Linked DNA regions of Homo sapiens: region 1 is reported to be linked to region 2. Evidence: microRNA targets listed by miRTarBase, many of them from high-throughput screens and not tested one by one. Region 2 holds a microRNA gene; the other region holds the end of a gene's coding sequence.

Region 1 (7,120 bases), not on the chromosome of region 2:
TTTTTGTGAGACGGAATCTCGGTCTGTCACCCAGGCTGGAGTGCAATGGTGTGATCTCAGCTCACTGCAACCTCCGCCTCTCGGGTTCAAGCTATTCTCATGTCTCAGTCTCCCGAGTAGCTGGGATTACAGGCGCACGCCACCACGCCCAGCTAATTTTTGTATTTTTAGTAGAGACAGGGTTTAACCACGTTGGCCAGGCTGGTCTTGAATTCCTGACCTCAAGTGACCTGCCTGTCTTGGCCTCCCAAAATGCTGGGATTCCAGGCGTGAGCCACGGCGCCCGGCCCGAAGCCTTTCTCCTTCAGCGAGAGGCCCCTTCTTCGCACCCAGTAGACTGTGGCCCCCGGCAACGACCACGCGCTCCTAGGTCCTCCTGGTGTTACATGTCACGCACACTTGTGCGTTTCAGATTACCACGATGGAGAGCAACCTGAAGACCATCGAAGAGGAGAACAAAGTGATTGAGCAGCAGAACGAGTCTCTCCTCCACGAGCTGGCGAACCTGAGCCAGTCTCTGATCCACAGCCTGGCTAACATCCAGCTGCCGCACATGGTAAGTGACTGAGCACGCAAGGCAGGAATGTGGAGTCCTCCACAGCGCACAGCCTAAAGTAGATGCCGTTTTTATCGTTATTTTCATGGTTCTTCAGCCTTTGGCAAATGTTTGTGGTTACCACCCCGAAACCATACCATTAACTGCTAGAAACATGGGCGGGGCTGACCCCAGAAACTTAAGTGTGCTCTGAGCCGGCCTTTGAAATAGTATAAAACCAGGGGCACTATGCTATGATACTATTTTATGCTTTTGTAAATATACTATTAAGAAAATAAAAGTTGTATATGAACTACTATTTAATATCTCGTAGGATCCAATCAATGAACAAAATTTTGATGCTTACGTGACTACTTTGACGGAAATGTATACAAATCAAGATCGTTATCAGAGTCCAGAAAATAAAGCCCTACTGGAAAATATAAAGCAGGCTGTGAGAGGAATTCAGGTCTGAACAGCTGCTGTAGTGATGAAACTCTTGCTTAAAAAGGATGCCTCTTGTTTTTTGCTGCTGTAACTTACCAGAAAGTGTTCTATATTTATTTCTGTTTGAATTTGAAACAGTGTTATGCTTACAAGACTTCATAATGATTTTATGTCTTGCTTTAAAGATAGTACCTGCAGAATAGTTTTTGAATACACCCACATTTTGTACGTTTCCATGTAAGCTGACATAGTGTTCTGCCATGTAATGTTTATAGCTGCTGATGTATGCACATTTGGGGGTATATCTATTTCTGAAGAGGTAAGCTGATCAAAATAAATAGAGTGTAAATTCTTTTTAATGCTTTAGTGATTAAATGTTTTAGTATTTTGAACTGAAATGGACACACAAACACACACACGCACACACAGACCCACAGCTTTGAATGATCATGTTGTGGCTGAGCAGCCGCTTTTTAGACGTTATCATTTTGCCTCATGTTGGAGGACTTTATGGAATTTAAGAAATACATTTTGTGTGCATATTGTTTCATAGCAAGAATTCGTTGCAAAAATGCTTTATTTTTGAACAATGCTTGGAAATATTATGTGACTTTTTTGTTTGTTTGTTTTAGGAGGATGGTGTATGGTGGGGGCAATAAATGAGGTTTTTTGCATTCCAAGGAAATGGCATATGGATTAACTGTAAGAAATGAAATAAGTAATTTATTGTAAGACAACATCAAGCCATGGAAACTTGGCAGAAGATTCAAAGCAGCTTAAACAGCACTTTTAAATTAACTCCTAAGCGTTACATGGTTGTGACTATGGAAACTCCAGTTAAGACAGGATCTTATCAGAGGTGGACAACGTGAAGATTTCCTTTTCCATTTTCAATAAACTTTGGAACAACCTTCTCGTATCTCCCCTAGAGTTTCGTGCCCCTCTGAACTGTCTGTTATTGCAATGTAGTTTATCAACAGAATTTGTGTGTTTTCGATTTAAGCTAAAAGATAATTTAAGAACATTTATTTCCCCTTTTCACTTTAAAAAATTATGATTATTCCTATTATTGTTATGAACCTTCTTATTTTACATTTGAGGGATAAAGGCAAATGATTTGTGAGTCTTCTAGTTACTGGACCGAGTTTTCTGCTGGATCTGGTGGGAAGGCAGCTCGGTAAAGTTTCCCTCCTGCTCCCCCCGCCCGACTTTGACTCTGAATCAGCATTTGGTCCTATTCAGAGGACTCTTACCACGACGTTTCTGTTCTACACTTGGGTGGAGACCAGTTGACCATAGAGCATTTGCAGAGCCTCATTGTTTGATTTCTTGTGACTATTCTAAGAATGAATGCAATCAGATTTTAAAAGTAACTAAATATACTTCAGCACTTTTTTGCTTTAAACTAGATCATCTTAGACTTGTTTATACCTTCCAGATTTGATTGTTTTACTCCCAATGACTGCACTATATGTATGCATAAGACCACTTTTGAGCGCTGTGTTCCCCCTTCTGAGTAGTCCTTTGACGACGTGTTGTGTTTTCTGATGTTGACTTGAGTTCCATTTAGTAGCATCTCTTCCTTCCATGTCTTGATGTTATGCAGGAAGTACAGACGTACTTTAAATTTTTGTTATGAAATAAAAAAAAGATGGGTTTTGTAAAAATAAAAAAAAAATATTTTTAGCAGAACAGGACTTACAGGGTCATTGTCCCCACAATGTGCCAGTCGACTATTTGCACTTACCTTGTCCTATATATCCGTACGGAGGTGTGCAATTCCTCGTGTCAGTAGCCTTGTGACACTGAACCTGGATGGATTATAGAGGAGCCCTCACGGCTGATCAATAATGTTGCAAAGGGAGACTACAGGGATCTCACGACGAATATTCTGATACAATACTCAACCTCGGTATATATATATGTGTATAAATATATGTATATCCCAGCGGCACTTTATACTGTTCACTGTACAAAAGCTTACAGTTTTCCACAAGGACTTTAATAACTAGCTGGGAAAAGACGATGTAATTATTTCGGGGCTCTGCGGAACCTTCTCTGTACAGCGCCCCCTTTCTGTTGTGCTATTGGTTGCAGCTGCCATGCTCAGAATGCGTTTTGAGAGCTGAAGCAAGGTGCTTGCAGTCACCTGAGGCCGTCCGTGTGGCCCAGGGCCCCAGCTGCCTTTAGGGCCCCCATTGTTCATAACAGCATATGCATTTCCCCACCGCGTTGTGTCTGCAGCTTCTTTGCCAATATAGTAATGCTTTTAGTAGAGTACTAGATAGTATCAGTTTTGGATTCTTATTGTTATCACCTATGTACAATGGAAAGGGATTTTAAGCACAAACCTGCTGCTCATCTAACGTTGGTACATAATCTCAAATCAAAAGTTATCTGTGACTATTATATAGGGATCACAAAAGTGTCACATATTAGAATGCTGACCTTTCATATGGATTATTGTGAGTCATCAGAGTTTATTATAACTTATTGTTCATATTCATTTCTAAGTTAATTTAAGTAATCATTTATTAAGACAGAATTTTGTATAAACTATTTATTGTGCTCTCTGTGGAACTGAAGTTTGATTTATTTTTGTACTACACGGCATGGGTTTGTTGACACTTTAATTTTGCTATAAATGTGTGGAATCACAAGTTGCTGTGATACTTCATTTTTAAATTGTGAACTTTGTACAAATTTTGTCATGCTGGATGTTAACACATCTTACTCTAAATAAACAAGGTGTTGCCACATTTGTAGCACGAAGGATCTCTAACCCGGGTCTGCGTCTTCACTTGAGTCTGGGAAATGCTGTCTGGGGTCCCGTGGGATCCACTCGAACCCTTTCACTCCAACTTAGTTGCTTTTAACATTTTTACCAGTTTGATTCTCAACTCCGAGGCATATAGAAGTCAATGACTTTTAGAAAACTATGTGAGTGTCTCGGCATCCCCACTGGGCCGTCCTTTTCCCATTTGCTGTCGCTCCTGCCCCTCGCTGGGCTAGGCCATCTGAGAGCGAGCCTGGACGGAGGACACGGTGCCTCCCAGCACAGGGCTCCCCTGGGCAGGGAATTCTCCACCAGCAGCCCTGCAGCCACCACACTTGGGGGCATTGCCGTTGTGCATGCGTCAGCATCTCAGCGCGCCCAGGCAGGGCGGTCACGTCCTTTGTAGAGCCTTTCTTCTGGAATCCAGTCGAGGAGGCGCGCTGCTCCCAGCTGGTCCATCCCTGTCCCTGTCCCTGTCCCTGTCACCTCCTTATTACTGAGCAGACTCTCAGCCTGCCTGTCTCCCAGAGGAGGTGCACTGCTCCCAGCTGCTCCGTCCCTGTCCCTGTTCCTGTCCCTGTCACCTCTTATTACTGAGCAGTTTCTCGGCCTGCCTGTCTCCCAGAACACAGACAGTTTTCAACTGCCCAGGGCCATTGTTTTACAAAATGTCCCAAACTGGCTGCCACCTCCTGACTGATTCGGGTTAACTGGGAGACGTGTCCTTCTCCAGTTTCACGTCAGGGGAGCAGAAGGACAGGCAGCCCATCGTTGGTTACCTGGGTGTTGAAAGATGATGCCTTCTTACTTCCATGCTGTTGGCAAGGATCCCGGCAGCAAGTCACCCATAAACTTAAATTGCCCTTCAAATATAATTTAACAATGAATTACCCACTTTCACATCAACTATATTAGTTAATGTCATGGTTTAAAATTCCAAAAATACCCTCCTCTCATAGACACAATCACCCAAAATATAAAATTTGAGAAAGGGACTCTGATAATCTTAGTTAAATTTCATAATTTATTCCCAGTGGTGCCTTCAGCTGCTTCACGATTCAAGGTCCTCTGAGCACTTCTTATAAGCTAGTGTGTTCGGATGGCTCATTTGCAACAGCACTGCTTCCTGGAAGCACTGGTGATTGCAGTGAGTCCCCCTCCAGTCCTTGGTAGAGTCCTCAGAGCTGACAGAAGAGAGAGGCGACTCTCACTCCTACCACCCTGCATCTCTGTCTCTCTAGACCCGCAGGGTGGAAGAAGCTCTGTCAAAGGCTGTCTTTAGGAACAAGCCGAGTTAATGATGTGCTGGCTCAGGCCTGTCTGTTAGGATTATTAAAAGCTATTTGTCCATAGGAACAGTTTGCCTGAGAATTGATGTAAATATTTTAGAAAGCAATTTCACAATATTTTCAAAAATCTTAGAAAATTTATATTTTGCCTCAATCTCAGTCTATACTAGAAATACCAAAACAATTACAAATGTACCAAAATCAATAAAAACAACCCTAAAGTCCTATTACAGAGGAATGATTAAGCAATTCATGATCCATGAATTTTATGGAGTACTAGAGAGCTCTTAAAATAATGGCTATAAAAACCTTGTAATAAGGGGATTATGATAAAGTAGATGAAGAGTACAGAAAAAAATTACAAATGCATGAAGGGGCATTTGTTATCAACAAAAAGAGTTGGACTCTGTAAAATATTTGAAGAGATTTATTCTGAGCCAAATATGAGTGGCCATGGTCCACGACACAGCCCTCAGGAGGTGCTGAGAACATGTGCCCAAGGTGGTCAGGGCACAGATTGATTTTATACATTTTAGGGAGGCATGAGACATCAATCAAATACATTTAAGAAATACTTTGGTTTGGTCCAGAAAGGTGGGACAACTCAAAGTGGGGGCTTCCAGGCTATCGGTGAATTTAAACATTTTCTGGTTGACAATTGGTTGAGTTTGTCTAAAGACCTGGGATTGATAGAAAGGGAATGTTCAGGTTAAGATAAAGACTGTGGAAACCAAAGTTCTTGTGAAGTCTTATAGTGGCTCCCCTTAGAGACAATAGATGACTAATGTTTCCTATCAGATTTTATTTTTTTTATTTATTTATTTTTTTGAGACGGAGTCTCACATTATTGCCCAGGCTGGAGTGCAATGGCACAATCTCGGCTCACTGCAGCCTCCGCCTTCTGGGTTCACGCAATTATCCTGCCTCAGCCTCCCAAGTAGCTGGGATTACAGGTGCACACCATCACATCGGCTAATTTTTTGTATTTTTAGTAGAGACGGGCTTTCACCACGTTGGCCAGACTGATCGTGAACTCCTGACCTTGTGATCCTCCCACCTCAGCCTCCCAAAGTGCTGAGATTGGCACGTGAGCCACCTCGCCCGGCCTTCCTATTCGGATCTTAGTTAATCTCTTCAGGATTGAGAAGGCCTGGAAGAAAAAGATCCAGTTATGTTAACAGAGATTCTTTACAGATGCAAAATTTCCCCCTACAAAGAACAGCTTTGCAGGGCCATTTCAAAATATGGCAAAGATACATGTTTTGGGGTAAAATATTTTGATTTTCTTCCTTGTCTTGTAATGTTATGCCAGAGTCAGGTTGGAAAAGTAAGTCATGATATACAGGTTAAATAAAACCCATCTGATGAGAATTTATAGTTTGCAGGGCGTGACTCCCCAGACCCCTTCAATAGGAATTTGGGCAAGATAAAAAAAATCAGAGTTTAGTCCTCAGCCTTAGCAAAATAAACTTCTGAATTGGTTGAGACCTGTCTCAGATACTTACTGGTTTACACAACACAGCTGGGTAATGAGGCAGAGCTCAGGGTCTTAAGGGAGAAGCAATTTAAGTACATGAAGATAATCAGGCTTTCATCCTTTGTATTTCACTTACTATGACACACACAAGTTATCAGTCACTGTTCAGACACTGGGTCAAGTGGGAAACGACACAAAGAAAACATCCCATCCTAATAAATGTAGTTGGCATAGACCTCCTTGTATAATAATAAAACAGGCACATGGCAGCCCCTGAGCACCCTCATTTTCAGTATCAAATAGAGTGGCCTAAGGGGAAGCCTCACTGTTGGTCCTAATGAGGCCTCCCCTGTGTGAGGCCAAATGTGGGGCATGCTGGACTTTCCTCTGGATGGAGTCACCTCTGGTCTCTGACCCCATCCTTGCATCCTAGTTTCTTCTCATCCTCTTCTTGCTTTTTAATTAAATGAGTTTTTTCTTTCTAGAGCATTGTTTGTGTCCCTTCAGTTTCTTCGAATCTTCGTTGAGCAAGGTAAGATAAGGAAATAAAGAAGGATCAGTATTACCCACAAACACAGGGATGTGTGTGCAGATGG
Region 2 (7,123 bases):
CAGCTGAATAAGACAGTTTTCCTCTTCCAGAGAAAGCTTTGTCAGAAGATTGTGATTTCCATCAACCTAAAAGAAAAAAAAAAGTTTTCTTAGTCATTTTCTTCACAATCAACTTCCAAAGAAATCCATATAATTTATTGTTAGAACAACCACAAGCAACGAGAAGGTATAAATGTTACTACTCTTACACAGAAAGACACCAAGAAAATGTTATATTGTTAAAATGGAAGTTTTAAATTCCTGGTTAAATTTAAAGAAGTTATGTTGCCTGTATTGGAAAATAACCAACTAAAAAAAATTCAGGATGATGGCTATTAAAACACTTTGAACAACACCTTATTGAAGAAAGATATTTATTTTGTTAAGTTGAAATAGGAAAATTTTAAGCAGTATTAATCTCCTATTTTTGGATACCTAGGGTTTCTCTTATGGTTTTCTGTTTCACCTAAAAATACTGATTAATAATTGAGTATCTGTGAAGTCGAAACTGTAAATAAAATACATATTTTTTTGAGAAGCAAAGTGAACAAATCAACCAAAGACACACTCACCCATGCCAAGACAGAATATTCTTCCCACTGCTTCAAAATCTGCTCTAAATAATGTAAGAAGCTTTGATTCAAGGAAAAAATTTTTTTCTCATAATTTCAATTAGTAATTTAGGCTAATCTATGTCGTTTGACATTTTACTAGAAAAATCTCTTCTCAGGAATTTAAACTAAAATTTTGTCTGCATATTTTTATCTAACTTTTAAGTTCAGGGGTACAAATGCAGGTTTGTTACACAGGTCAGCTTGTGTCATGGGGGTTTGTTGTACAGATTATTTCATCAATCAAGTATTAAGCCTAGTACCTGTTAGTTATTTTTTCTGATCCTCTCCCTCTTCCCACTCTCCACCCTCTGAAAGGCCCCACTGTGTGTTGTTCTTCTCCATGTGTCCACGTGTTCTCATCATTTAGCTCCTACTTTTTAAGTGAGAAAATGCAGTATTTTTTTTTGCAAAATTAAAATCCAGATCATATTTGGAAGATAGACAGGGAATGCTTCCTAAAACTGCCTTGAAAGTAAAAGAAAAAAGACTTGTCACCATCTTTGGACTGCTCCTTTAAAAAAAATTTCATTAATTAAAAAAATATTGAGTGCTTACTATGTGCTAGGCATTGAGCTAGGAGAAGGCTATGTGGCTACTAACAGGATACACATGATCCATATTCTGATGGTATAAAAAGTAAAACAGGAAAAAGAAACAGACTGAAAAATATCCCAAAAAACTTGACGTACAATTCTAATTAAAATAAATTCAATTTTTGTAATGTAAGTTTCAATAATTTACCTTATCCTTACATCAAGGAACATATATGTAAGTATAACTTTGCTCCTTCTCTCATTCTATTACCATGTCTTCAAATGTCTATAGATTTGCATGAATAAACTAAAATAAGAATTTTAATTACCAATTTTTCACCATAAAATACTAAAAGAATAGCTTGCAAAACTGTATTATAGTATCTGCATGAAAATGATGTTTTACGAACTAAGTAGATGGGAATTTAAAAATCAAGCCCTGACATGAGTGCCCTCAACTGGTGAAATCATTCCAAAGCATTCTTTTAACGCATCTAGCAAAACTCAGAAGGACGGCTGGACACCTGGCCCTGAAGCTCCCTAATGGTGTGTTCCTGGTCTGCACACTTCCCCTTGCAGCACTGCAGACTCTCCTGACACTCGTGAAGCCTCCGTTCCGCCGCCGTCAAGGAATCGCAGACACGCTCTAACTCCTTCAGATGAGACTCCATCTGGCCTCTCATCTGAGTTGTGGCAGTAGGGAAATAAGTGCAAGATCACACATTCAGCATTAATATTTTTATTATCTTAAATACTAGATATGCTTATAACGTAAGTATTTTAGGTATAATGGCTTTAAATAAGAACACAACTGAATAAATATTAAACTCTGTTAAATAAGAATGTATAACTAAAAAGTGGGGTAGACTTTAGTTTTCAAAAAGTTTGTTGAGCACATAAATAGGGTAAATTAGCTGACAGGGTGGATGTTTAACTAATTTTTAAGAGCAAATTTTTAAAATCCTGACATTATATTCAAGCATAGATTATCACTAATAACCATTACTAATAAAGCCGTAATTGTCTACTGCCCAGCTATAGGTTCTAAAGGAATTGTCACTTTTAGTCATTCAATCTTATAACTCAGATACTTACTTAAATTAGAGCAGCTTGCTTCACTCATCTTAGCCAAAACTGATAGGGTTTACTGTATATTATTTAAAAATTGCTAGTATCATCAGTTCTCACTTGCCTTTAATTTGGCCATTAATGTTACTATCAACAAATCTCTCTAATTTCATCTACATTAATCTGTTTTGGCTACTGCAGTTCCTCGCTGCAGCACTTTCGTGGAGATGTGAAAAGCAGCAACCTTAAGAAATGTTTGCACTGCTAATTACAAAAAATAGCCAGACTCTTTCCCTGAGACAGGAACACCTAATAGTTTCTGTGTAGTATCTGGCATTCTTGATCAGGAAAGATAATGCAGTATTTTTTTTTTTTTGCAAAATTAAAATCCAGATTATATTTGGAAGACAGACAGGGAATGCTTCCTAAAACTGTCTTGAAAGTAAAAGAAAAAAGACTTGTCGCCATCCTTGGACTGCTCCTTTAAAAAAAATTTCATTAATTAAAAAAATATTGAGTGCTTACTACGTGCTAGGCATTGAGCTAGGAGAAGGCTATGTGGCTACTAACAGGATACACATGATCCATATTCTGATGGTATATAAAGTAAAACAGGAAAAAAAAAAAACAGACTGAAAAATGTCTGTTTTAAGGACACTGAGGGATCCAGAACAAAGGATCCCTCAGTGTCCTTAAAACATCTTAGAGGCCATGAGAAAACCAGGAGACTTAAAACAGTGAAGTAAGAAAAAGAAAAATTTCATTAAAAAAATAGTTGTCTTGTTAAATACTAGTTAGAAAACATTGTGACCTCACAGTATCTGAAAAAGACAGGCTCCAACCCTTTCCGTCATTTGAACAGGATTGTAAAATATGCTTTTATTTACAGTGCTGCCTAGCAGAAAAGGAGACATTTGCACTGGTATGTTTCATGAGAAAATGAGACCAAAAGACATGAAATGGTTTATTCGCTGGCCTGCTAAAAATAGGTGAAAAGTAATTCCATGAAAGCAGTAAGTTGTGCATTCAGTGAGCTATCTTTATGTCTGTATAACTGGAGGACGCTTGCTCTGGCTGACCTCTTCTTCACATTATTGCCTTGCTCTGACTTCTCAATCCTAAGATAGGGAGCAACCCAGAGAGAGTAACCTTATTAGATTCAGATGGAAGCGACCACTAACATCGCATGACCTCTGCTGCCAGGAGTCAGCATCCTACAACTTTCACTGCTTCTTTACCAAAACAACACAAAAAACCAAACAGAGATGCGGTTTCATTTAAAAATTTTAAAATATTCACAAAAACATCATAACTCGCCAACACTGGCCTTCCCTTCATTCTGTTGCAATAGAACAAATAAAAGGAAATGATCGTTTTTTAAAAGATATTATTTTTCTTCAAAAATGCATTTAGCAGATATTGGCTTTGCTTTTGTAGACGTAAAACATTTATAACCAGAAAAAAAGGGTGAGATTAAAAATGAGAGATACTTAGGTTTGTATACTTATGATTGATAACCATTTTTTGAGCTATTTAAAGTCTGCTCTTGCATCAGAAAAATTAAACATTTATGCTATTTTCCAAATATTAACAAAAAAGTGAAAAAACATTCACATAAACAAACAACATTTCCAGCCTGGAAGAAACATTATTTCCTTGGAAAACAAACTCTTACAGAGGCTAAGACTAGCCCTTTCCTAAGTATGAACTAGAGAAAATGACCAAAATGAATGAATTTGTGTACTATTCATAAAGTAAAAAATATATAAAATATTATTTATTTGAAATTCCAAACGTACCTTCTCTACATTTTTATTTTTGGTTTTTGTTATTTGGTTATTTTTATGTAGCAAATTTTCACATCTGCTTTTTACTATTTCAGCTGCTTCTTGCAACTTTTGTACCTGAAAATAAAGTATTAGAGAAACATATTATTTTTAGAATCATAACATGAGATAAAAATCTAAAATTTAAAATTTCATTTTAAACAAGTCATTATTTTCCTATCAATATCCTTGACTGGTTCATCTAATGTTATTACTTCTTTAAATATGGAATCACTCAGTGCTCTACTCTAACCCACAATCTTTGTCTGATTTACCTGTCTTCTCTCATCAATACTTCTAAACTCTCCACTTGAGCTTTGAAGACTACAAAGATTTTCATTTGCAGATCAATGTCACTTCAAAGAATCAGTCTCTGGTCCAAACTAGCTTCCATTTAAATTATTTTTCCCACCAAATCAAAATCTGCTAAAAAAAAAAAAAAAAATTCTAGGCCCTGCACCCAGAATATGGTCACTCAACCACAGTATTCCTGCTGAGGGATTAAACCCAAATAACCAGCTGGAAGACCCTGATGAATAACAAGTCCCACAGTCCACCACAACCTCCATTCCTACCTCAGACCTGGATGACTGAAATATTCTAACTGGATGTCTCAACTTAATTTTCCCATCTAATCCATCGAGATGCAGCCCCTTCCTACTTGCCCACACTTTGGCCCCCTTAAGCTTTCATCCTTAGTTCATTCTTTTTTTTTTTTTTTTTTTTTGAGATGGAGTCTTGCTCTGTTGCCCAGGCTGGGAGCACATTGGTGCAGTCTCGGCTCACTGCAACCTCCACCTCCTGGATTCAAGCAATTCTCCTGCCTCAGCCTCCTGAATAGCTGAGACTACAGGTGCATGTCACCACACCTGGCTAATTTTTGTATTTTTAGTAGAGACAGGGTTTCACCATGGTGGCCAGGCTAGTCTCGAACTCCTGACTTCAAATGATCCGCCCACCTCAGCCTCCCAGTGGATTACAGGTGTACGCCACTACACCCAGCCAGTTCATTATTCTTTAATTCAAACTCTCTCTGACCAGTGTGTTAACCATCATGCAAGGACCTGCATAAGTCCCATCTTATGAAGTTTTTTCTTGAATACTACATTTCCAAAAAAATAAAGGTTTTCTATAAATTACCATTGAACACATGGTCTATTTCATATATATTGTCATATGTTCTTTTCTTGGTCTTTCATGTGAATAATCTGAATTATACTTTATTTCTTGAGAAAGGAGGCATAATGAACTTTAATGACCCTAGAAGGGAGTCATTAATCTAAATCAATACCATTAAATACACATGATGACAAACAAATATAACCAAGATTAACAAGAATACATTAAGGGTCACATTATACCGATGTAATTCATTTTAAATCTACTTTTAGGAATATCCAGTATATCCATATGCAGTGTTTGAATCAGGAATCAGCAGAATCATCTATTTATAAAGATGTGTGGGACCTTAAGAAATATTTGAGACACACCATATTATAACCCACAATGATAGCCCCACCTCTCTTCAGTTCTATTTATTTAGATTACAAAGAAATAGTGTTTTAAATTGTCTACCAATTTTAGTAAACACTAAAATAAATGCAGTAGTCACCTGAGTTTTATACATTTCAATAAGGGTTTTCTGTTTTTTTTCTACTTCTTGCAATTCTGAGAGTTCATTTTCAACAGATACAACTTCATCCTTCAAAGCAGCAAGTGTAGTCTAGCAAAAAAGATATAGATTTTATAAGTCATTAGAATACATTTATACTCCAGTGCTACAGAATTATTATAAAAACATAACTCATGTATTAACAAAGTTGATAAAATAATTATTTTTTATTTCATGCAATACCATCTAAAATTTAGGAATTTCACAAAGCTAGTGACTAATAATTATGAACATCCTTATTAAGATTTACACAGGACATATTATTTTTAAAACTTTCTAAATTTACTGACAAAAAAACTTGGAAATGTGCCTAGATATGAAAAATCAATAGAATACAGAGGTTACTGGAAAAGAAAAATACACAAAAATTATACTTAATACATGATAAAGGTTAGATTTTTAAATCAATGGAGGAAACATGGACAACTAAATAAATGACAATAAGACAACTGTTTAACTATTAGGAAAAAAACAGGTTAACTACCTGCCTCAGCCCAACACTAAAGAAGCATCAAATGAATTAAATAAAAACTTTAAAAATTTTCAGACAATTCAGATAAAACTGTATTTCATTTCAGGATAGCAAAAGTCCTAAAGAGCATAAAATTAAAAGAAGATATGTAGAAATGTAAAAGTCTGAGATTTTATCTTCCTTGCAAGCTTACTAGTTAGTCTACTGCAATTTCATGGATGCTAACAGAAGGTACAAGATTCCTAGGTCAGAGACAGGGGACTTATTACTCACAGCAATAAGAGTAGCAAGACTGTCAGCATTTGTATCAGTTTGCTGAGCCCCAGTTCCCACAGAGCAACCCAGAGGCCAGATGGCAACTGTATATGCAGTCAAATGCATTACAGAAGAACAAACCTGAGTTTAGGGAACCCAAATTTCTTATAGCAGGCAGTGAGCATGCCTACCCATACTCCTAAGGGAGACACGGTTACCATATTCCAAGGATATCTACTATACAAACATCCTTCAAAAGACAGTCTACATGGACAATATCTTTGATTACAAGATGTGCAGAGCTGTGAGAGCACTCTCAAGAGAAGCCATTTAAAAAAATGTGTGTGCGTGTATCTCTCTCCAAAATTTCACAGCTTTCCAATACAGTTTAAATGGCAAACAAAATATGAAAAAGTATTAGCAAATGACAAATTTGATGTCTTGTCAAATAACATTTGTCATTAGAAAAATAAAACAAATATAAGATTAATATCCTTAATATAGTTATTATATATTAATTAGGACAAAAGACAAATATAAAAAATAATGAGTAGGTAATTCAAAAAGGCAGAAATGTGAATGATTGATGAATACATGAGCCAATATGTTCACTAGTTACTTTTTAAAATGCTGCAGGCACTGAAGGTTCTATTAGTGAACAAAACAGACGACATTCCCTTCCTCCATGAAGCTTACATACTGGA

The links. Region 2 holds the annotated microRNA hsa-miR-7856-5p (UUUUAAGGACACUGAGGGAUC, at 2,872-2,892, opposite strand). A microRNA usually pairs through its seed, bases 2 to 8, with sites in the 3' UTR of a target mRNA and lowers its output. Matches are read on the target gene's strand: a 7mer-m8 pairs with bases 2 to 8, a 7mer-A1 pairs with bases 2 to 7 and ends in A, and an 8mer does both.
Region 1: the mRNA of MYT1L is a reported target of hsa-miR-7856-5p. Seed matches in the 3' UTR shown: 7mer-A1 at 1,038-1,044.

What each region holds. Positions count from the first base shown.
Region 1 is chr2:1,785,757-1,792,876 of GRCh38, reverse strand. MYT1L (myelin transcription factor 1 like) reads left to right here. Exons shown (of 25, transcript NM_001303052.2): 24 at 413-556; 25 at 870-3,764. The coding sequence ends at 1,010. Among named protein-coding and RNA genes, the nearest start is that of PXDN, 45 kb to the right of the region's middle.
Region 2 is chr1:86,354,794-86,361,916 of GRCh38, forward strand. It overlaps MIR7856 (microRNA 7856), which reads right to left and starts at 2,894; the gene lies at 2,839-2,894. ODF2L (outer dense fiber of sperm tails 2 like) reads right to left here. Exons shown (of 17, transcript NM_001366781.1): 11 at 5,633-5,743; 12 at 3,994-4,098; 13 at 1,651-1,809; 14 at 1-66.